Linked DNA regions of Homo sapiens. The protein of the gene in region 6 purifies or fractionates together with the protein of the main gene of each other region. This does not show direct contact. Each region holds a gene or a part of one and is shown on either strand. Other genes may lie near its edges.

Region 1 (3,500 bases), on a different chromosome or scaffold from region 6:
AGGAGAGGGAGATTCATGCAAGCGGAGAATGGAGATGATTAAGAGAGTAAGTAGTTGCTAATTATGAAGGTATCTGTTTGCTGCTACTTGGGAGGCTGAGGCAGGAGGATTGCTTGAGCTCAGGAACTGAAAGCTACAGTGAGCTATGATCACGTGGCTGCACTCCAGCCTGGGCGACAGAGCGAGACTCTGTCTCAAACAACAACAACAAAATAACAGCACGGTACACAGAGCCCTATTCTCCTTGCTAATCTCCACACGCAGAAACTGAGGCTCAGAAAGGCTGAGGCACTTGCCAGGGCGCACAGCCATACCTATCCTCCAACTCTCCTGACCCAAGGACCACAGTCACATGACTATCTGTGCAGGCTGCAGGATTGTCCCTCTGGTGGTGCACCGGGAGTCCCAGGAACTCCCCTTACACCCCGCCCTGCGTGCGCCTTGGCGGAGCCTTCCGCGCCAGTCCAGGCTGTTTTATGTATCCCAGGGGCCCCAGGAAGAGGAGACAGTGGTCTTCCCTGAACTCCGAGACCTGCCCCGGGGCCCTGCCGGTGTGCACCTTGCCGTCCATGTTGGCAATGCTGCAGTTGCACTCGGTGGCGCCGTAGAACTCCCCGATTTGGCGTACGCCGAAGCGCTCCGTGAACTCCTCCCAGATGGCAGGACGCAGCCCGTTCCCCACCGCCAGGCGCACGCGGTGTCGCCTCTCCGCCTCGCGCACCGGCTGCTTCAGCAGGTAGCGGCAGATCTCCCCGATGTACTGAACCACCTGGGGGACGGGGTGAGGAAGTGGGTGATGGGACCGGCAGGCGGTGGGGAGCCCGGATCAGAGGAGAGACCCCGAGACCGCCCCACCCAGGGAGCTAATCCTATGAGCGGAACAGCCTAAGGATGATGATGGCTGCAGAATCGTCCACACTCCATTAGGGACCACATTGACTCCTAGGACTCGTTCAGTCTCTTGCAAAGGGTCTAGGATGCAGCTTTTTTTGTTGTTTTTTGGTTGGGGGTCTCCCTGTGCCGCCCAGGCTGGAGTGCAGTGGCATGATCACAGCTCACTGCAGCCTCTAACTCCTGGGTTCAAGTGATCTTCCAGCCTTAGCCTCCCGAGTAGCTGGGACTACAGATTTTTTTGTAGAGATGGGGGATCTCGCTCTGTTGCCCAGGCTGGTCTTGAACTCCTGGCCTCAAGCAATCCTCCTGCCTCAGCCTCCCAAAGTGTGAGATTCCAGGTGTGAGCCACTTGTGCCTGGCCGGATGCAACTTCTATCCAAGCAGATGCAGTGTCTTTCCTCCTCCCCCTACCCGCACCCCTTCGTGGTCCCTCGATTCTGCCAAGCAGCTTCCTGGAGATACCACATCCCTGTCTGAGCCTCAGCAGGCACACAGGGCAGGACTAGCAGGAGAGCTGGCACCCCGCAGGGCAACCCTCAGCCTGGAGCCTACACTGTCACCCAGAGCCCCCTGGCTGAGCCTGGGCTGGCCGGAGCGTCACCCCTGGGCAGACCACTCCCAGGTGCACCCACTAGGCTGCGCTGCGTCTGGACTGAGCCCCAGGTGCCCACGGAGCCACCTGCTCATGGGCTCCCCCTGCAGGACATCTTCCCTCCCTGCCACACATTCTCAAGCCCCGCAAGAGCTTCCTGGGGTCATCCACCAGGTGCCCCACGGTGCCTTTAAGAGTTCTCATCTCCAGTTGGGCTTCGGAATGACTCCCCCCCCGCCACTTTACAGATGGAGAAACCGAGGCTCACAGATGGTAAGGAACTGGAACGAGATCACAGAGCTGGGAAGTGGCAGAATTTGATTTGAACCCAGGCATCCCGGCCCCAGAGTGGGAATAAAACAGTTGCATGCCAGGGATTACCCACCAGATGGATCATAACAGCTGCAAATGTGCTCGGGGCTTCCCGCTCACACACAGGATGAAACCCACATTTCTTCCTGTGGCCAACTGGATCTGGCCCTGCCGCCCCTGCTGCCTCCTCTCCCTCCATCTCCGCTGAACACTCTGCCTCCTCAGGGACTTTGCACATGCTAGCCTTTTGCCTGAAGCAGTCTTCCCCCAGATGCATTTGCCTGAACTCTTCAGTCTCAGCTCAAACGTCACTGAGAGGCATCCCCTGTGCCCCCAGCTGTGCCCCTGAGAAGGTACTGACTAAATAGCTGATGACTAAACCAATATGATCAGCAGACACCACCGCCATGCTCTGAGCTGAGCTTGGAGATGAAGGCACTGAGGCCCAGAGAGGAAATGCAGTGCACCCAAGATCACTGGCTGCTGACCAACAGCAGGTCCCTAAGGGGGAGGGTCCTCTCCCTCCATTCTCAGACTTGGGCCACTGCCTTAGGTGTGGTACAGCCCACACCATCTCTAGGAGAGAACCTGGCCAATCAGCCCAGCCCCTCCTCAGCCAATATGACTGGCTTAAGAATGGGCACGGCCAGGCGGGGTGGCTCAAGCCTGTAATCCCAGCACTTTGGGAGGCCAAAGCAGGTGGATCACGAGGTCAGGAGATCGAGACCATCCTGGCTAACATGGTGAAACCCCGTCTCTACTAAAAAATACAAAAAATTAGCCGGGCGTGGTGGCACACTCCTGTAATCCCAGCTACTCGGGAGGCTGAGGCAGGAGAATGGCGTAAACCCGGGAGGCGGAGCTTGCAGTGGGCCGAGATCGCGCCACTGCACTCCAGCCTGGGCGACAGAGCGAGACTCCATCTCAAAAAAAAAAAAAAAATGGGCACATGGCTGGGCGCGGTGGCTCATGCCTGTAATCCCAGCACTTTGGGGGGCCGAGGTGGGCAGATCACTTCAGGTCAGAAGTTCGAGACCAGCCTAGCCAATGTAGTAATACCTCATCTCTACAAAAATACAAGAAAATTTTGCCAGACCTGGTGGCATGTGCCTGTAATCCCAGCTACTTGGGAGGCTGAGGCAGGAGAATCTCTTGAACCCGAGAGGCAGAGGTTGCAGTAAGCCAAGATCGCTCTATTGTACTCCAGCCTGGGGACAAGAGTGAGACTCCGCCTCAGAAAAAAAAAAAAGGCAAGGATTTTTACAGACAAGCTAGCAGGGAGGCTGTATCTGATCTAAATAGACCGTGAAAAACCGGTGAGGACCAGATGTGCCATCCGCATAGGGCGCAAATCTCTGGCAGCCCCCAACCCAATCTCTTATTATGCAGGTGAGTAGCTACTCTACGTTGCCTATTTTTTTTTTTTTTGGAAACAAAAAATCCTCGGTAGAACTTCCCTTCTAACAAAAAGCAGCCCAAGAAATCACTTATTTTCTAACAAAGAACAGCCTGGAAGATTGGGCTGCAAACACAAATAAGGAAGCTGGAAGCTTGCAGCAGGGGATGCCAGCAGCTGCACCGATAAAAAGGGCTACCTGTGGCCGGGCACGGTAGCTCACGCCTGTAATCTCAGCACTTTCGGAGGCCAAGGTGGGTGGATCACCTGAGGTCAGGAGTTCGAGACCAGCCTGGCCAACATGGT
Region 2 (4,191 bases), on a different chromosome or scaffold from region 6:
TTTTTCTTTTTCTTTTTTCATTGAGATGGAGTCTCGCTGTCACCCAGGTTGGAGTGCAATGGCGCGATCTCGGCCCACTGCAACCTCTGCCTCCCGGTTCTCAAGCGGTTTCTCCTGCCTCAGCCTCCCGAGTAGCTGAGATTACAGGCGCCCAAAACTGCACCCGGCTAATTTTTGTATTTTTAGTAGAGATGGGGTTTCGCCACGTTGACCAGGATAGTTTCGAACTCCTGACCTCAGGTGATCTGCCTGCCTCGGCCTCCTACAAGTGCTGGGATTACAGATGTGAGCCACCACACCTGGCCTTATTCTGGTTTTCTTTAGGTGTCTTCATTGAACAAGTAGGTATTGTCTGGCATACCCTTCTGGGTTATCTCGTCTTATGGGGTCTTACTTTTGTCTTTAAGCTATCTAGAGCTCTAGTGGAGCATTGTATATATACCATCATTAATGAGTTAAATGGTATCTTTGACATATGTTCATTTTATATTTGTGTGAGAGTCATAATTTTATTTTAAAAAAAAGATATGCTTTTTTTTTTTTTTTGAGACTGTTCACTCTGTCGCCCAGGCTGGAGTGCAGTGGCTTGATCTCAGCTCACTGCAACCTTCGCCTCCTGGGTTCATGATTCTCCTGCCTCAGCCTCTCGAGTAGCTGCTGGGATTACAGGCGTGCACCACTACATCCGGCTAATTTATGTGTTTTTAATAGAAACGGAATTTCACCATTGTTGTTCAGGCTGGTCTCGAACTCCTGACCTCAAGTGATCAGCCTGCCTTGGCTTCCCAAAGTGCTGGAGTTACAGGCGTGAGCCACCGCGCCCGGCCTTAAAATACATGTTCCTACTTTCAAACACTTAGGGCTTCCTATATGGAAGGGACAGTGGCGGTGCTCTAGTGTCCAAGTCCCTCAAGGAGGAGGCCGGGGGCTCCGCGGACCTCAGGAGTCAGGCCTCCAATCCCCAGTTCAGGGCGCTTTCCTCTTTTCCCAAGTGCTTTCTGGCTCAGCCATTTCCACTCCCGCTCCCTTACTTTCCCATTTCCTTCGGTCACATCCCCGCATATAGTACAGGCCACTGGAGCTGCCTCTGAGACACCGCCGCGGGCGCGGGTACACACTCCGCTAAGGGCATTCCCAACCCGGTTCCGCAGCCTAACGGCGTGGCTTGGACCCTGCTGCAGCCCGTAGCCCCTATCCTTTCTCCTCCGGACTTCAGTTTGGCGGCATCTCTGTCTTAGCGAGAGGGGCTGTGACTAAAAGCTGCCTTTTCTCAATGAACTGCCAGTTTGTAAGAGCCTCCGGGTCCCCTCAAACCGCCTCGAGCGCCCCTCTCCGCGAGAGCTGCGCGGCCGGAACTGCGCCGGCGTGACGTCACTGACCTCGTCGGGTTCACTTCCGGCGCTCGCACCGCCCCGCTCTCCAGCCAAGGCTCCGGGCTGAGGCATTTGCTTGGCTGCAGCCTCCTTCCGACCTGCCCGGCGGGACCCAGGGGACCAAGCCGAGCCGAGCCGCGGGGCCCGCTCCAGCCCGGCCATGAGCGCGGCCGCATGATGCGTCCCTGCCTCGGCCGCTGCAGTCGCCGCCGCCGCCGCCGCAGGCCGGGAGGAGCCGCAGCGCCGGGCGACCCCGCCCGGGCCTCGGGTGAGTGCGGCGGGCTGGGCCGGGCGGGCTGCTCACTCCCGGGTCTCCCGGCCACTTCTGGCCCCCGGCGTGCCCTGTCCTTCCGTCGGTTCCGCCGCTCTGTCTCCACCCCGCCGCACACCTGCGACCTTCTGGAGTTCCTAGGGGCACCTCCGTGCCCGCACCTGACTTCCCTTCCAGGTGCCCCCTTGTCATTCCTTAGTTGCTCTCTCGGGATAGGGCCCGGATTGCAGCCCCAGCTTTTTGCCTGACCTTGGGCGTGACACTCAGCTCTCCGAGCCCTGGTTTTCTGTGTGGCTAATGACGGGGTGGTGGTTACAGAGCAGCTATAAACCCTGTGTAAGCTGTAAAGAGTTTTTTAATAGGCAGGTATTACAATGAGCAGTCTCGCACTTCGCGTTGTGGCTTCTCTTCCTCTTAAGCTGTAAACTTTTCTCTTTTATTCTCTGCCCATCTTCCTAGTTATCTTCCCTCCTGCTCCACGTCAGTCATCTTTGGGTGTTAGTTGCCTGAAAGGGCATCTGGGACAGTAAAGCTTTCAGGGCAGTAAGGCTCACCTCTCCTGGTGTGGTTCCTTCTACAACTTTGTCACACTCAGTTAGATAGACACACTTTATTAGCTTATGAAGAACCAGTTTATTGTGGCCGTTAAATTGGAGTGTAAGAGACAGTGTTGATGCGGCTACCTGCCTTGTAGCTTCTTTTACTGTCTGGGCTGTATACAGTGCTGGGCAAATCGCTGCTACAGTGTTGCATTTTCAGTCTGCTTAGTGTATGCACTTAAGCGCACGTATTTATCTATTTTACTGTTACTATCCCAAGGGGTTTAGAGATTTAGGTCAATGTGTATTAATATTTCTTTCTGAACTCTTCATCTCACAGATGAAGAATCTCTTTTTTGTTATGTTTTACAGTGTTTACATACCTGAAATCACCTTTTAGTCACTTTGTGGCCTGGTACGCACGCGGTGGCTCGTGGCTCATGCCTGTAATCCCAGCGCTTTGGGAGGCTGAGGCAGGAGGATCACTTGAGCCCAGGAGTTGGAGAGCAGCCTGGGCAACATAGTGAGATCCCCTTCTCTACAAAAAAATTAAAAAATTAGCCGGATATGGTGGTACACGCCTGAGGTCTCAGCTGCTTGGGAGGCTGAGGTGGGGGGATCACTTGAGTTTGAGATCATGCCACAGCACTGCAGCCTGGGCAACAGAGTGAGATCCCCATCTCAAAAAAAAAAAAAAAGTCACTTTGTTAAATTCGCTTGTTAAAAGTCAGAACTTGGCCAGGCACAGTGGCTCATGCCTGTGATCCCAGCACTTTGGGAGGCCGAGGCGGGCGGATCACGAAGTCGGGAGATCGAGACCATCCTGGCTAACACGGTGAAACCCCATGTCTACTAAAAATACCAAAAATTAGCTGGGCATGGTGGTGGGCGCCTGTAGTCCCAGCTACTCGGGAGGCTAAGGCAAGAGAATCACGTGAACCCGGGAGGCGGAGCTTGCAGTGAGCCAAGATCGCGCCACTGCACTCCAGTCTGGGCGACAGAGCAAGACTCCGTCTCAAAAAAAAAAAAAAAAAGAAAAAAAGTCAGAACTTGGTTAAAGTGAAAGGCTCTTGGGATATTTGAAATATGGAATGGAACTGAAATATTAACTAAATTGCAATTCTTGAACATTCTGGAAAATAGGTTAGGGGCCCACATTGGCTTCTGATTTGAGAGTTGAAGGAGAAGAAGACTATTTGAAAAGGTAATTCCCAAAGGATTCGCTAAGTAACAATGGGAACTCTTCTGCTACCATTGGCTCAGAGCCTGCCTCAGTTGACAGATTAATGAATTGAAACTTTACAGCCCTGCTAATCAATGAACTGTAAAAACAAATCCTCTTCAAGAACAGAAGAGTATTAGCATGAATAGAATGGCCCTCTCAGTGAGAAAGAAAGCACTGAAATGAACTTTATATAAGAACAATCTTGATTCAGTCAAAAGTATGAACGTACTTTTACATTCTTACTGAAACTTACCTGCTGGCTTGGATGCTTTGTTGATATAAATAATACAATCTTTGTTAAATTAACAAAGAAAATGGGTGTAGAAATAAGTTCATGTAGAAAGTTAATGTTTGGGATGAACATTGAATAGTTTTCGTGATTGGACAACTATACAAGATAATTTTACTAAAGCAGCTTTTTGGGGTATGTTTCTGTAATATTTTAACTTTAGAAGTACTTTTTTTTTTTTTTTGAGACGGAGTTTCGCTCTTGTTGCCCAGGCTGGAGTGCAGTGGCTCGATCTTGGCTCCCTGCAGCCTCTACCTCCTGGGTTAAAGCGATTCTCCTGCCTCAGCCTCCCGAGTAGCTGGGATTACAGGCCTGAGCCACCGTGGCTGGCTAATTTTGTATTTTTAGTAGAGACAGGATTTCTCCATGTTGGTCAGGCTGGTCTCCAACTCCTGACCTCTGGTGATCCGCCTGCCTCAGCCTCCCAGAATGGTGGGATTACAGGCGTGAGCCACTGTGCCTGACCCTTTTTTTTTTTCTTCAAACCCTAGAGC
Region 3 (3,500 bases), on a different chromosome or scaffold from region 6:
ATTTCACAGGAGCAAAGGAGACCACACTAAGGTCAGGGTTTCCTTGAGAGAGGCGACAAGAAAGACTGAAAAATGTCACAGCTTGGAATCTGATTGCTTAAATACATCCTCTATTCTAGTCTTATAAGCTTTTCAGCTGGTAAATCAAAATCCTGTTATACACTAGGATAATATTCATGACAATTCCCTATATTTTATCTTCTTAAAATCAAAGACTCAATTCTAAAGGGTTAATAGAGGAATTACAAAGTAACTCTCTAGTTTGCATTTCCCATAATGCTAAAATAAAGCTTTTTCTTTTAGTCTAGAAATTTGCTTTTTTAATACTGTGAAAAGCCTCTATGAATCTGTTTAACGTATTTATTTCTTTTCATCTATTCAATGCCACTGGGCATAACATGTAATGCAGTGCGTGTTGATATTTTGCAAAGCACCACATGACTCACTGTACCCTAATGCACTCCATTAATCCTGTTTGGACAGCTGGGTCCAGGCATTTGTTAGCTGCATTTTAATTGTTCCATCTTTCTTTTTTTTCTTTTTATTTATCTCTATGGCAAACTACTCTGGAATTTAATTTGTTGGCCTTCAAAAAGTAAATTTTACCATTAGTTTGTTTTCTTTGTGTTAAAACTATACTCAGCATGTAATTTTCTTCCATAAAATCGGTATATATTAATGATTAGCAATCAATCTTAAATAATAGTACAGTGAATGAGTTTCCTAAGTATTAAAATGATAGGTTGGCTGAAATATAACAGAAATTATTTAATAGACTGTCATAATATAAATGATAACATTTAACATCAAATCAGGTTGCTAAAGAGCATACTTTTGGCATTTTCAAGATTCACATAAGCAGATGTCAAAACAATTACAAGTCCTATAAAGCAAACACAAAAGAAATAAGACTATTACACACACCAGTTTTTTATTAGCTTATGGAACAGTGGTCCCTTTACATTTATACTTTTTGTTTTCTATTACAAACATGAAATCCTTTGTAAGAATTATGAAGATAACTACAAAGCTTCTACTTTCTTTGCACAGCCTGCATCCCTGGTATCTGTAAGTCTTCAATAAATAATGGAGGCAATATGAGAGCTAATGCAAAAGCAACTCAAAGTTACCAGCAATTTTTGTTATGAGCAAGTAGCTAAAATTTAATGATCAAAATTTTCCAATCATTCGTGTGCACTCTTAAGTCAAAACCTAAGTCTAGAGAATTAGATAGAAATGCTTAATGGAAACTTTTGTCTGAAATAATATTTAGTGAAGAACTCAGAATATGGTCTACAATAGCATTTTATAAAAGACAACTAAGGGAAGACTTACTCAACTATTTCAATGACAAAGCAAAAATCTGTTTTTCTTTTAAAAGATTATCAAATTCTCCGTAAACTGAAACAATAAGAAAATGACAGAAATGAATGACAGGCAAGTAGGAACTCTCAAGGGTGTCCTTTGAATCAGAGTGTGTTCTCAGAGATTACACTGCGTTCACCTCTATTTTGTGGACACAAAGCAGCTTAAAATAATTTACAAATTTTCAATTTTTTAAACCATACTAAATTATAAACGCTCAAAAGCTTTTAAATAGAAAAATTAGTTTAATGCAGTTTCCTCACTAGAGGACTCGAAAGCCTAACTTATAGATGTGTCAGTAAAAACAAAATACAACAAAAACCAGCCCGTTGTTTGGAGAAAGAATGCTTTTAAGTGTTTAAAAAATAAGTAGTCATTATTTGATAAAAGTATTTGTCTTGGTATGCCCCTATACATAAAGTATAGAAGTAAAAGTGTAAAATAATGTAGGAAGAAACACTGTATTTCAAAGGTAATCTTTATGAGTAAATGTTAAATAAGTTCAGTAAAGACAGTTTTTAAAAACATGGATCTTTAAGTGAAAATTTCTCACTGAAACTTACCCAGTGTTCTCGACATCACAGGCAGAGCAGAGCTCAAAACCAAGATGGACACACAATTTCCAATGATCTGTTATGAGAAACGAGAAAGAATATTGGGCAGTTAAACAGCAGGATGACAATCAAACCCAGTAACATTCTGAGAAATGATTGTGCATTCTAGTTACCTAGTGTACTTTGCCGATTTCTTAATGATACTATTCAGTACAGAATTTTCAAAGAATAACACACTTTTAAAATAAATAAAGTTATATCTGTAAGTTCTAGAAGATGTTTACAGTACCTAGCACAGATATAGTTATAGAATACTTAAATTACTTGACACCTAGATAATGCACTTTACATTACTGATTGCAGCTGTTACTTTCAAAAGGCTCTGCCTGTCAAGCAAAAAATAATTAACATATTGGATACTTCTGACTACATTTTTAAGGCCAGATTATTGCTTAAGATCTCTTTTATCACATCTATTTCTAATGTTAATTGTAAGATTTAAAAAGCACCAGAAATCCAAAACCTCTAAACTTTTGTAATAATGCATCCCATGTTTATTCTTCCATAGTAAATAAGAGGAGTTGAAAATATCAATTAATATTTATGATCACTTAAACTAGATACTAAATATCTCAACTACTTATTAAGTTTAAAGAAATAGCTGTGTGTGTGTGTGTGTGTGTGTGTGTGTGTGTGTGTGTGTGTAAAATAACTTCTCCCCTTTAAGTAGGCTAAAAATATAAAATAAAAACAAAACAAGCTTTCAGCTCTTATTAGTTATTCTTCTTTGTCAGCCTACGGGAATATTTTATAAAGATTCAGTCACTATATACGGCAACAGCCTTTTTATTCTGAACCCAATGACATGTTGTGGAAAAAGTCAAATTAGCCTCAGACTACAAAATGTTTCTGAATAGAACTCTTCCGTCTTACTTTAATTATTCAAATTTGAAATACTTTGTCCCTACTACTTGTAGCAACTAAGTTCTTCAGACTTCAAACAAGCTCCCTGAAGTACAGTTAGCACAATCCAAGTTACTCATTAGCAATACGTTTTCTTTAGAGGAAAAAGAGTCCTTTCAGGAGCCTTCTATAGCTAGTTAACAAGCTCTGCAGTTCTCCGCATTTACAGTGAATGGACGCCATCCAAATTAAACAGGGTACATCCCTTTCCCACTCACTCAGCATTTTGAAAATCTTCCAGTTTGTGTTTACGCAACTTACAAACAAATACCTATCACTGCAAATGAACCATTCAGAATGACTATTAAATAAAGCAGTCTGTCAGGGAAGGCAAACGAGAGGCCACAGTCACCTAAGATTCTACCTTACCTTTGTCATAGTTGTGTCATCTTTCTTGGGAGTAAAGTTTCCAAAAAATCGAAGGCTATAGAAGCCGACAACAGAGGACACCATAAGATAGCTGTGAGAATCAAGGAAAAAAACTCTCCAACAGAATGCAAGTTTCCTAAGTTCTCGGCAGTCTCCAAAAAGTCTTAAGGCCCATAGGAAAAGCAAAACAAAAAGCCGCTTTAAGTGCTTGAGGAAGACTAACCTGTTGTTTTCTCTTCTAGACAAGTG
Region 4 (3,500 bases), on a different chromosome or scaffold from region 6:
AAAAGTCAGCTATGCACCTGAGTGTTTTTTTTTTTTTTAAATAAACAAAATAAAGGGAAAATGCAAACACTTCTCCTTCTCTCAAAAGAAAAACACTATTATTCTTTTCGGAGAGAGGAGAAGGGGAGCAATTTCTGGTTTGAAAGATTGTGAATATCTTCAGAAGACTAACATATTTGAGAAAAATCCTAATTCTTCTAGTGTATATGTCTCCTTATAGGAGGAAGCTGGACTTGATCTTAAATTCGGTGCCTGAAAGAAAACCATTTTTTCTGATTACTGAGATGTTATTCTGATGTTTTTCATAGTAAGGCTAAGGATCAGATTTTTTAAAAAAGTCTGTCCTAACAGGACTAAGCTACAAATGATGCCACTCATCGGAACAGAAGAAGCACTTTGCTTGGGAGGGCCTTTGAAGTGCTGAGCTTAAGAACAAGTCTCATTTGCCTACAGGTCAAAAAGCTTTTATAGTTCTTCCTTTTACATCTGCTTTCTATAGCTGCACATGACTTGCTTTCTACACCTACACTTACCACCTCTGTGTCCCATGTTAAAAACATTTATTTAAATAGCTTTTACTAGGTGATTTTTTTTTTCTTTTAAAGAAAACAGCCTGACAGCTTTGGGATCACGACTGGCATCTGTTACTATGGAACCACCTGTTACCTGGTCTCTTTTTGTACAGTGGAGAGGACAGCGGAGGGGAGGGACTCACAACAAAACCAACAATAAAAGCAAACAAACAAAAAACCCCAATTTCTGCTCTCAACAAACAAACAAAAACCAACTTTTGTTCCAAACTTAAATTCCAATTGCAATTAAGGACTCAAAGAATACTTAATTTGGGAAGACCCCATTCTAGGTCATCTTATTTGCTGCTATTGGCTCCTCCACTTACCAGATTGTTGCTTCAGCTGCTCTTTTTGGATTGCCGCAAACTGTTTGGCATCAGCCAGGGAGCCAAAAAGAGCAGCAAAGGGGTTACTTGAGATGTTGTTGTTATTCTCCTGGTCTGTCATTTCACTTTAAGGTATCCTCCATCCAGACCTAGTGGGAGAGGCTGTTCAAAGGACAGGTATTAGACACAAGAGGGCAGATGACACAATAGCTGTAATATACCTGTGGTTGTTTCTTTTCCCATTTCTCAAATACAATACATTTTAAAATACTTTGGGTTAAGATTTTCCAATTCCTGTCCCCAAACTCAAGACATTTTTGGCAAAATGGTTACAAACCTACCAGCTGGACTCGGTGGCTTGATTTGTGGATAGCTGAAACTAAAAAGGCTAAAACGTTCAGCTGGAATGCATTAATCTGTTGATATACTTTTATTTGCAATACCTTTAAGAAAACAGGTTAAGTAGAAAGAATTATTGAAGTCAAAGAGAGAACTCACCTACTAATTGTAATAACAATGTGGCACTGAAAAATAATAAGACAAGAATTATGGATTTCCCAAGAATTAAGCTGGCAGTCTAGTTCTCATTCACTGGGGTGAGGACAAGGGACTTCTATGACTTAGGGCTGGGGATGGATATTTCTCAGCTACATATAAATTAAGTAAAAGCCCATATCTTAGATTTGGACTCTGGCAAATCAGGACTGGAAGCAGTTCAGCTGTATGTTGTGGGTTTTTAACATAGATTAAGCAATCTATTTATTTCTAGGCTTAAAAATACTGATATTTCTTCCACTAAAAATTAAATGGTCTTTGCTTCATGCTATATCTAACCTTCACTGTTTACCTGATTTCTTAAAATAATACTGAAGAAACACGAATTCCAACGGTCAGGTCTACTGTGTAATATGAAATATAGATACCTCAAAGGTGTTTAGTAGAGCTGGCTGAGCCTGCATTCACACTCTTCTGATTACATTTCCTCATTCAAGACCAAGTGAACTCAGTGGCACAACAGAATAAACAGGGCTCCCTGAAAGGCTTTCTCCCCTTTCTGAAATTTTAAGGCCATGACATAGAAATATTAAATACAACACTGAAAAGGGTGGGAAGAGACAAAGGGTATGAATGTTTTGTTCATAAGGATCTTGAACTGCTATAAGGACAGAGACCTTAGAAATAGCGGGAGTAGGGGTATAAAGGAAGAAAAAAAGAACATTTGGTCTACCTTTGGTTTATTGAGGCAAGACTCCTCACAGGATCATATCAACAAAAGCTAATGTGGGCCAGGTGCAGTGGCTCATGCCTGCAATCCCAGCACCCTGGGAGGCTGAGGCAGGTGGATCACCTGAGGTCAGGAGTTCAAGACCAGCCTGGCCAACATGGTGAAACCCCATCTCTACTAAAACACGAAAATTAGCCAGGCATGGCGGCAGGTGCCTGTAATCCCAGCTACTTGGGAGGCAGGAGGCTGAGGCAGGAGAATTGCTTGGACTCGGGAGGCAGAGGTTGCAGAGAGCTGAGATTGTGCCACTGCACTTCAACCTGGGTGACAGAGCGAGACTTCGTCTCAAAAAAAAAAAAAAAAAAAAAAAGCTAATGTGGTCGAAAAAGTTACCCTTATTTACCAGAGAAAGAGATTATTTATAACATTTCTTGACAATTCTGAGGCATCTTCAGCACTTGCTTCATGCTCCTCTGCCATTTTTTCCACACAAGAGCTAACGGCTAATTAGCTGTAATGACTTAGGCAGTCTAGTCTCCTCTCAGTGCAGCTCAAAGCTTTACTGCTTCAAGGAATTGAACTGTTATTTGGATTTTTAGTAGAGACGGGGTATCACCATGTTGGCCAGGCTGGTCTCGAACTCCTGACCTCAAGTGATCCTCCCACCGCGGCCTCCCAAAGTGCTGGAATTATAGGCATGAGTCACTGCGCCTGGCCTTCTGTATTTTATTTTTTGCTATGTATATTTCAGTAAGCTTAATAATGCAAAAAAAGGGAAAGATACCATATTTAGTATTGAAATTAATGAGAGGGATTTTCCCCATGTAATTACCGCACAAGTTTAATTATTACCTGTAGTTAATGTAAAAACACCAAGAATTGTCTTATTGTTAGCTGACCACCATTCTACTTCCATCCTAAAATACCACAAATTCCAGAGGAATGCAAAAAGTATATTGAGCTCTTGTTATTTCTCTCTCTAAAACATCACATTCATTTTTTTCCTTTGGGTATCCACTCCACTCAATCCAGAAGAGGCTGACCAGTTCAGAAGGGGTTGACCTCACCCACTAGCCCCAGGAATGAACATACAAGTCTGGCCAGGCTAAAAAGAATACAGCATTTTCCAGCCAAAGCAACTGATCCAGGAGTGGGCACAAGACACTATGGAGGCCTAACAGAGTCAATGAATACCAGCTTCAGGACTTCAGCTGAATCTACGGAAAAGTGAGTTTTCTCCTGATTGAGTTGATAAGCCAGTAAGATAGAGTTGCCATCTTTACACCATTTAGAAAAGGCCTAGCCTAAAACCAAGCCAACATACACTAGAAAACAGAATTGAGAGATGGAAAGATAAGTCTGGACTTTTCAGTTATA
Region 5 (2,352 bases), on a different chromosome or scaffold from region 6:
TCAACACTTTGACCTCCTCTGTGTCTAGTAACATTTGCATATAGTACAACTGAGCACATAGCACCAGAATATTGGAACAGATGCTTCTCCAAAGCCAAGGGTTGCCTTACATTTAGAGTGGGAAAAGAGGAAAATGAGTTAGCAGAGGAGCAGCGGGGAGGGGGGTAAATTACAGGACATAATTTGCTTCTAAAAATTTGTGTTTCGTGTTGTAGTTATATAATTAACTTTTCTATTGTACTGATTGACAGATTTGGCACAGACATCCTCTCATTGTGAATATATATGAATATATCAGAGTTTTGGACTCTGGGGTATATTTACATAAACACAAGTATTCTGAAAGCATTGATAACCACACTGGTGTCTCTTAATTTTGTCTATAAGATGACCTTATAAAATCCCTCAAGAATTATTTAAATCAAGTGTACGAAGCTCTGCAGTTTTTTGTTATGTCTGAAATATTCATTAAAAAGTTTATTAAACCTGACAGCCTCTTCTTAATGTTTCACAAGCAAGACAAACTTTTATTTTTGTTTCTTCTTTAATTGGCATATGGAGCTTGGGAATATTAGTAGGAGAACAAGGAGACTATGTGAGGCATATAAAAGGCACCACACTGGAAAGAATCCAAGAGAATGAAAAATCACTTCTTTAAATAATATTTAGACACAGACTTTGTATCTATATTAGATATAAATCATGTCTAAATACAAATCTAAATAATATTTACAAATAATTATTACACAAAACCTATGTAACACACACTTTATAGTACACAACTGTAAATAAGAATACAAATCTCCACTGCTGTGGGTTCAAAACAGCAGGCTTGGACCACTCAAAAATGACATCTGAGAGGAATTAATAGTCATCCTGAAAGTTCTGCAGACAGACGCTAGCGGACAAACCACTTTGACACTTTTCATGCTATCATTCAGAAAAAAATAGAATACATGTAATACCAAATTAGGAACACTGATAATGAACATATATGCAAATTATATCTTCCAATGATATATCTGTGATATATGAAAATAATTTTGAAGAAATAAGCTTAAAATATAATTTACGGAATTCCAGAAAACTTTTTCTTCCTTCACTACATCCTCAGGAATAAGGCAATTGAGTGGATAACAGTTTGAATCTTACTTCAAAGTGTAGCTACAAAGTAAGAAAAAGCACTGGGCCAGGAGTCAGAATATCCAGGTTATAATCTTGATTCTTTCATGAAACAGCTTTGTGACACTGAAGGAATCTACTAAATTCTTTAGATTTAAATTGTTCTTGTCTGTAAAGCTGAAAATAAGAGAGAACTGGGCTAATCTGTAGGGTTCCTTTCACTCCAATTTCTACCAGTCTTTTTCTAAATGGGATCATCTCTAACAAAAAGTTACAATGGTGTGTCAGAACATCCTGTGACTGACCCTCTGTTTGCTGCTTTTTGATCTGATGACAGATGGCTTGGAGATGTATCAACAACATAATTGGGAGTAGATAAGCTGGCCACATTGATGAATGACTGAGAGGAGACTGCAAAGAAATAATATACCGTTTCATTTGCCCCTTAACACAAAGATGAATCAGCCTGTGGATGGGGTCAATTCACTGAACTAGAAAGGATTGATTATATATGCATAAAGTGCAAAAGCTATAGGTCTTTATAGCCATATCTGCTCACACATATATTCACTTTTCCATGCTAGTTATTCAGGATAGAAGGTGCATTAAATTTATACCAATTCCTAGCTACTGGCCTAGTAACTAACAATCTACAGAGTTGTAATGCATTAATAAATATAGGATTATAGAAGACATTTAGTATGTGATGTTACCTTTAAGTAACTCTCATAATTTTCTTTTTCCTTTTTTTCTTTTTTGAGATGGAGTTTTGCTTATTGCCCAGGCTAGAGTGCAGTGGCACAATCTTGGCTCACTGCAACCTCTGCCTTCCAGTTTCAAGCAATTCTCCTGCCTCAGTCTCCCAAGTAGCTGGGATTACAGGTGCCTGCCACCAGGCCCAGCTAATTTTTTTGTATTTTTAGTACAGACAGGGTTTCACCATGTTGTTCAGGCTGGTCTCAACTGCTGACCTCATGATCCACCCATCTCGGCCTCCCAAAGTGCTGGGATTACAGGTGTGAGACACCGCACCCAGCCCTTAACTGTCGTAATTTTCAAAGTAGTTTCATCTACTTTCCATCTCATTCCAACTCTAAAAGGTAGTAAGGACTGGAATTAACAACTCCAGATTACAGATGAAGAATCTGAGACTCAGAAAGATAAAGGAGCAGCTTTAGTGTCAAAAGGTCAGAAGTTTGTAAATGAAGAAGCTGAAGGTAGGCCCAGATG
Region 6 (4,166 bases):
AGCTCAGAGGGAGAAGTGGTCCCTGCTACCCTCTGTCCCCAGCTCGCCAGTCCCAGGCTGAATGTAATTGTCCTCGATGAAGCCATCATCATCCTCATCTTCAGCCACCTGTGGGCGGCCTCCCCTTCCTGTCTCAGGCAGTGGGCGGTGCCGGTAGCTGGCATGGTATCGGCGGCAGAGGTGGCATTTGGCAGCAAGTGCAATGAGGAGCGAGAGGACCACAGCCCCCAGCACAAATCCTACCAGCACAGGCCATGCCCGAGCCCCAGTGCCTGGGCCAGGGGCCACAGCAGACGCTGTGGGGAGCTCCGAAGGCCCAACAAGTGCTGCAGAGAAAGGGACAGCATTATAGGTGGGCCCCAGAGGGGGCTCCCTGGAGAAACCAAGAGCAGTGCAGGTAGGGTCCTTCCCCCAACCCCAGCATCTAAGGGGAAGCCCCCCACCCCCATCATCCTCCCACTGTCACTCACTTTTGTTTGTCTCATTCATGGAGGGGCCTGATGACACCAGTGAGTCTCAGCCTCAACCAGAAAGAGCCCTGGCTCTGAGGAGGCCCCCAGATGCCAGGCAGCCCCAGGGCACAAGTCCTAGAAAATAACATAGGTATGGGTGTCAGGGATGGTCACAGGGTGCACTTTCCAGGTCACACTCACAGCCATGGTAGCCCTGCACAAACTCTGGGGACTGGACAACTGACCACACCAGCTCTCCACAGAAGAGAAACAAGCTGAGCCTACAGAAACTGGCTATTTGTAAGGGACCATCACAGGGTTTGGCTCTGGAAGCTGCTAAAAAAAAAATAAATTGTAGAACTTACTGAGCATTCCTTATAATTCAAGCACCAGGCATCATGCTCACAAAACCCAGTAAGGTAAGTATAAACATTATCCCCACTTTATAGATGAGGGCTCTGAGGCTGAAAAAGGTGAACTGACTCAACTAAAGTCTTCAGATTCGAACCCAGAGCCCAGTCTGTTGCACTGCTTGGTAAGCTGAGGATGGGAGACAGGGGCAGAGGTGGGTCCTGGCTCCCGAAGGTCAGAAAACAGCAATTGCTTGGAGCTACCCAGCCAAAGCGGAGACCACATATGGGGAGGGTGATGCAAGTTGCTACTGAGGACAGGGGCCCTGGACACAGCCAGAGCAGCCCTGGCCCTTCTAAGTTGAAAGCCGCTGCTGCCCACCTCTACCCTCAGCCCTTCAAGCAAACCCCTGTCCTTTCACCTCTACTCAAAGGAGGCCCACACTCTGCCCCCACAGGGAGGCTCAAGCCAGGGAGTATCCAAATGAGGATCACCTGAATCAGGAAATTATCACCCAGGGCTGGGGACACCTAGAGGAGGAACACTTCAATTAGGGGAGTAGCTGGAGGAAGATCATCCAGGCATGGAAACACCTGTAGGAGGAGCACCTGGATCAAAGGAGTGTCTGGAGGAGGCGCACCTGAATCTGGGGAGTATCTAGAGGAGGAGCATGAAAGTTAGAAGTACCTGGCAGACGAACAGCTAGGGCAGGAGCATATCTGCCAGTGGAGCACCTGAACCAGGGGAGTCCTTGGGGGCAGAGTAGCCGGGCTAGGGAAGTACTTAGGAGAGAAGTTGAGGGGAGTACCCCAGTATATTCTTTGATACAAGTGCCTTCAAACCCCCCCCAACCTCCTCACATCCAACCTGGTATCAATCCCCATCATGTCTTCCACTAAACATCTCTGGAATGACAATACCCTCTTCTCCACCCCACTGCCACAGCTGAGTCCAAGCCACCTTCCTCTTGTACTCTAGCCATAATCTCCTAACTGGGCTCCCCACCTCTGGTCTCTTCCACAGAGTGATGGGCCTACAACCCAAATCTGACCCCATCACTAGCCTGGTTAAAATCCCTTCAAAAGCTCCCCATGCCCCACAGTGCCTTGCAATCCAGCACACGGCCCTCAAGCCAAACTCTTCTTCCTCTTCTCCACAGTTCCCTCCCCAGCACTTCAGACAGACACACATGCCCTCCTCCCACTCACCCACCCTCCTGCTCCCTGGCCACGCCCTCCTCAGTTTTTGGGGCGCCAGTCTGTCAAGGCCAAATCAGACCATACCTGCCTGTGAGGTTGTCCCTGGACCTACCCTGGATGACCTGTCACCATCCTGCCCAGTCAACCACCAGTCAGAACCAGTCATTGCTAGGCGGGCAGCTCCCCGTGGGCAACGGCTGGCTGAAGGATCTGTACCCTGGCGCTGCAGGGAGCTGGGCGTTCAGCCCCTCAGTGTGGTGCTTGTGAAATTAACGAGGGGAGCGTGAGAGTGAATATACAGGTGGGAGCGGGAGAGACGTCCTGGGAAGGAGAGGTCAGCTGCTCATTCATTCCTCAGCCTGCTGTGGGCCTCATCCTAGTACTAGGTCCGCAAAACATGAGAATGTGTTACACTGGAATGAACTGAATTCAATTTGACGTTTCTAAGGTTGTATTCCTATTCCTTTCCTCCCTGCCCTGTGAATTCTTCCCAAGAAGACACACACACACTAACCTTCCAAGGGTGCATATACACTCCCCAACAGGCCTCTGAACTCACAGCCCACACTGATCTGCCCATCCCCCATACGCACAGCCCCTCCCCCCAGGTCACACTTTCCTCCACCAACAAACACCCCTCTGACATGCACAGACACCTACCCCAACTCTGATGTGTAGCTTCCTTCCTGCTGCCAGAAGCCCCTTGGGTACTGTGCAGAGCCTGGGTACCCCCTCCCCGGCCCCCCCGGGCCTTCTCTTCTGTTCCCACCTTCAAGAACTGTGCACAATCCGCGGAGTAAGCTTCCGGCTGGGGCCGGCAGAACCTGGACAGGTGGGCGGGTCAAGGCAGAGCTTGACTCACCTGCGGAGGCAGTGGGCGGGGCTGAAGCTGCAGGTCTGGCAGAGGGCGGGCTGCGGCAGCGCCTCCAGTGGGGAGGGATAATTCTACCTCTCCCCCAAGCTTTTGCCAAGAACTTTATGGGTGTAGACCTCACCCTCACCCCCCAATGCTTGCGGTTTGTACAGCTGGGATCCAGAGAAGCGTCCAGCGGGCCCTAGAGGGGCAGACACCTCAGCAGGCAGGTGCTCAGGTTGATAAACAACTGAACGTCCGGTGACTGGTACAAAGTCCAGAGTTGAAGAGGGAGCTTTGCAGGCCTGTAAGGGTGGTGGGCTGGAACCAGAGCGGGTGGGGAGGGCATTCTTTCCAGGCAAAGCCAGGAGGACCAAGAACACTCCCAAATTGCCTACAAATGTGTGTGTAACTGTGTAGGGGGTGAGGGGTGGATCTGGATGGGGGCTCAGCCTTCATCTGGATCTCAGGATCCCGTGACCCCACAAGCCAGGCTCTGAACCTCTCCCGGGTGCTCTCTGATTCCCTTTAGCTTTACTCCTCGTCTCTGGGCCTGGTGCCCCCTGTTCTTCAAGCTCCAGTTCAGGAATCACCTTCCCTGAGTCCTCCCTCTACCCTGCAAGTCCCCACTCTTCCATGCCCAGAGCACCCACTGTCGCAGCATTCCTCATTATCTTGTGATTATTCGCTCTCCTGGGGTGGGGCCAGGCTTTGACAGCCTGTGGCTCCCAGCACAGTACTGACCCAGGGCAGGCTCCCCGTAACTACCTAAGGGAGGAAGGACCGCACGCGCCAAGGCCTGGAGGCCCCGAATTCGCAAGGATAGGCCGGGCACAGTGGGAGCAAGGGCTGCAGAGAGGCCAAGTATGGTGGCTCACGCCTGTAATCCCAGCACTTTGGGAGGCCAAAGCGGGTTGATTGCTTGAGCCCATGAGCGGAGATCAGCCTGGGCAACATAGGGAGACCCCATCTCTACTAGAAACACAAAAATTAGCTGGGCGTGGTAATGCTCACCTGTAGTCCTAGCTACTGGGGAAGCTGAGGGGGGAGGACTGCCTGAGCCCAGAAGTTTTAGGCTACAGTGAGCCATGATTGCGCCATCACACTCCAGCCTGGGCGACAGAGCAAGACCCTGTCTCAAAAAAATAAAAGGGGGGTACAGAGAGGGGATGCAAACAAGGCATGGTAGAACTGTGGCTGGAAGGTGGGGGCCAGTTCACACTTGGCCCTGAAGATCTTAGGATGAAATCTGAACCCTCAGGGCCATCCCTTCCCACCTTTCCTGCCTCCTCTGCTGCAGCTACACCAAAC

What was found.
Region 1: the proteins of C1orf210 (region 6) and SLC27A1 purify together in Homo sapiens (affinity purification with mass spectrometry; one large-scale study listed by BioGRID and IntAct). This does not show direct contact.
Region 2: the proteins of C1orf210 (region 6) and ZDHHC7 purify together in Homo sapiens (affinity purification with mass spectrometry; one large-scale study listed by BioGRID and IntAct). This does not show direct contact.
Region 3: the proteins of C1orf210 (region 6) and LMBR1 purify together in Homo sapiens (affinity purification with mass spectrometry; one large-scale study listed by BioGRID and IntAct). This does not show direct contact.
Region 4: the proteins of C1orf210 (region 6) and UBE4A purify together in Homo sapiens (affinity purification with mass spectrometry; one large-scale study listed by BioGRID and IntAct). This does not show direct contact.
Region 5: the proteins of C1orf210 (region 6) and ALG11 purify together in Homo sapiens (affinity purification with mass spectrometry; one large-scale study listed by BioGRID and IntAct). This does not show direct contact.

What each region holds. Positions count from the first base shown.
Region 1 is NC_000019.10:17,494,524-17,498,023, reverse strand, and holds part of SLC27A1 (long-chain fatty acid transport protein 1), read right to left. Parts: intron 770-3,500; coding exon 560-769; intron 1-559. UniProt on the Homo sapiens protein: Mediates the import of long-chain fatty acids (LCFA) into the cell by facilitating their transport at the plasma membrane.
Region 2 is NC_000016.10:85,008,736-85,012,926, reverse strand, and holds the start of ZDHHC7 (palmitoyltransferase ZDHHC7), read left to right. Parts: upstream 1-1,391; 5' UTR 1,392-1,641; exon of another isoform or gene 1,642-1,821; intron 1,822-4,191.
Region 3 is NC_000007.14:156,722,184-156,725,683, forward strand, and holds part of LMBR1 (limb region 1 protein homolog), read right to left. Parts: intron 3,343-3,500; coding exon 3,252-3,342; intron 1,996-3,251; coding exon 1,929-1,995; intron 1-1,928. UniProt on the Homo sapiens protein: Putative membrane receptor.
Region 4 is NC_000011.10:118,362,600-118,366,099, reverse strand, and holds part of UBE4A (ubiquitin conjugation factor E4 A), read right to left. Parts: intron 1,061-3,500; 5' UTR 1,020-1,060; coding exon 899-1,019; intron 1-898.
Region 5 is NC_000013.11:52,031,749-52,034,100, reverse strand, and holds the end of ALG11 (GDP-Man:Man(3)GlcNAc(2)-PP-Dol alpha-1,2-mannosyltransferase), read right to left. Parts: 3' UTR 501-2,352; downstream 1-500. UniProt on the Homo sapiens protein: GDP-Man:Man(3)GlcNAc(2)-PP-Dol alpha-1,2-mannosyltransferase that operates in the biosynthetic pathway of dolichol-linked oligosaccharides, the glycan precursors employed in protein asparagine (N)-glycosylation.
Region 6 is NC_000001.11:43,282,782-43,286,947, forward strand, and holds the start of C1orf210 (type III endosome membrane protein TEMP), read right to left. Parts: upstream 2,801-4,166; 5' UTR 2,663-2,800; intron 588-2,662; 5' UTR 490-587; coding exon 471-489; intron 327-470; coding exon 4-326; 3' UTR 1-3. UniProt on the Homo sapiens protein: May be involved in membrane trafficking between endosomes and plasma membrane.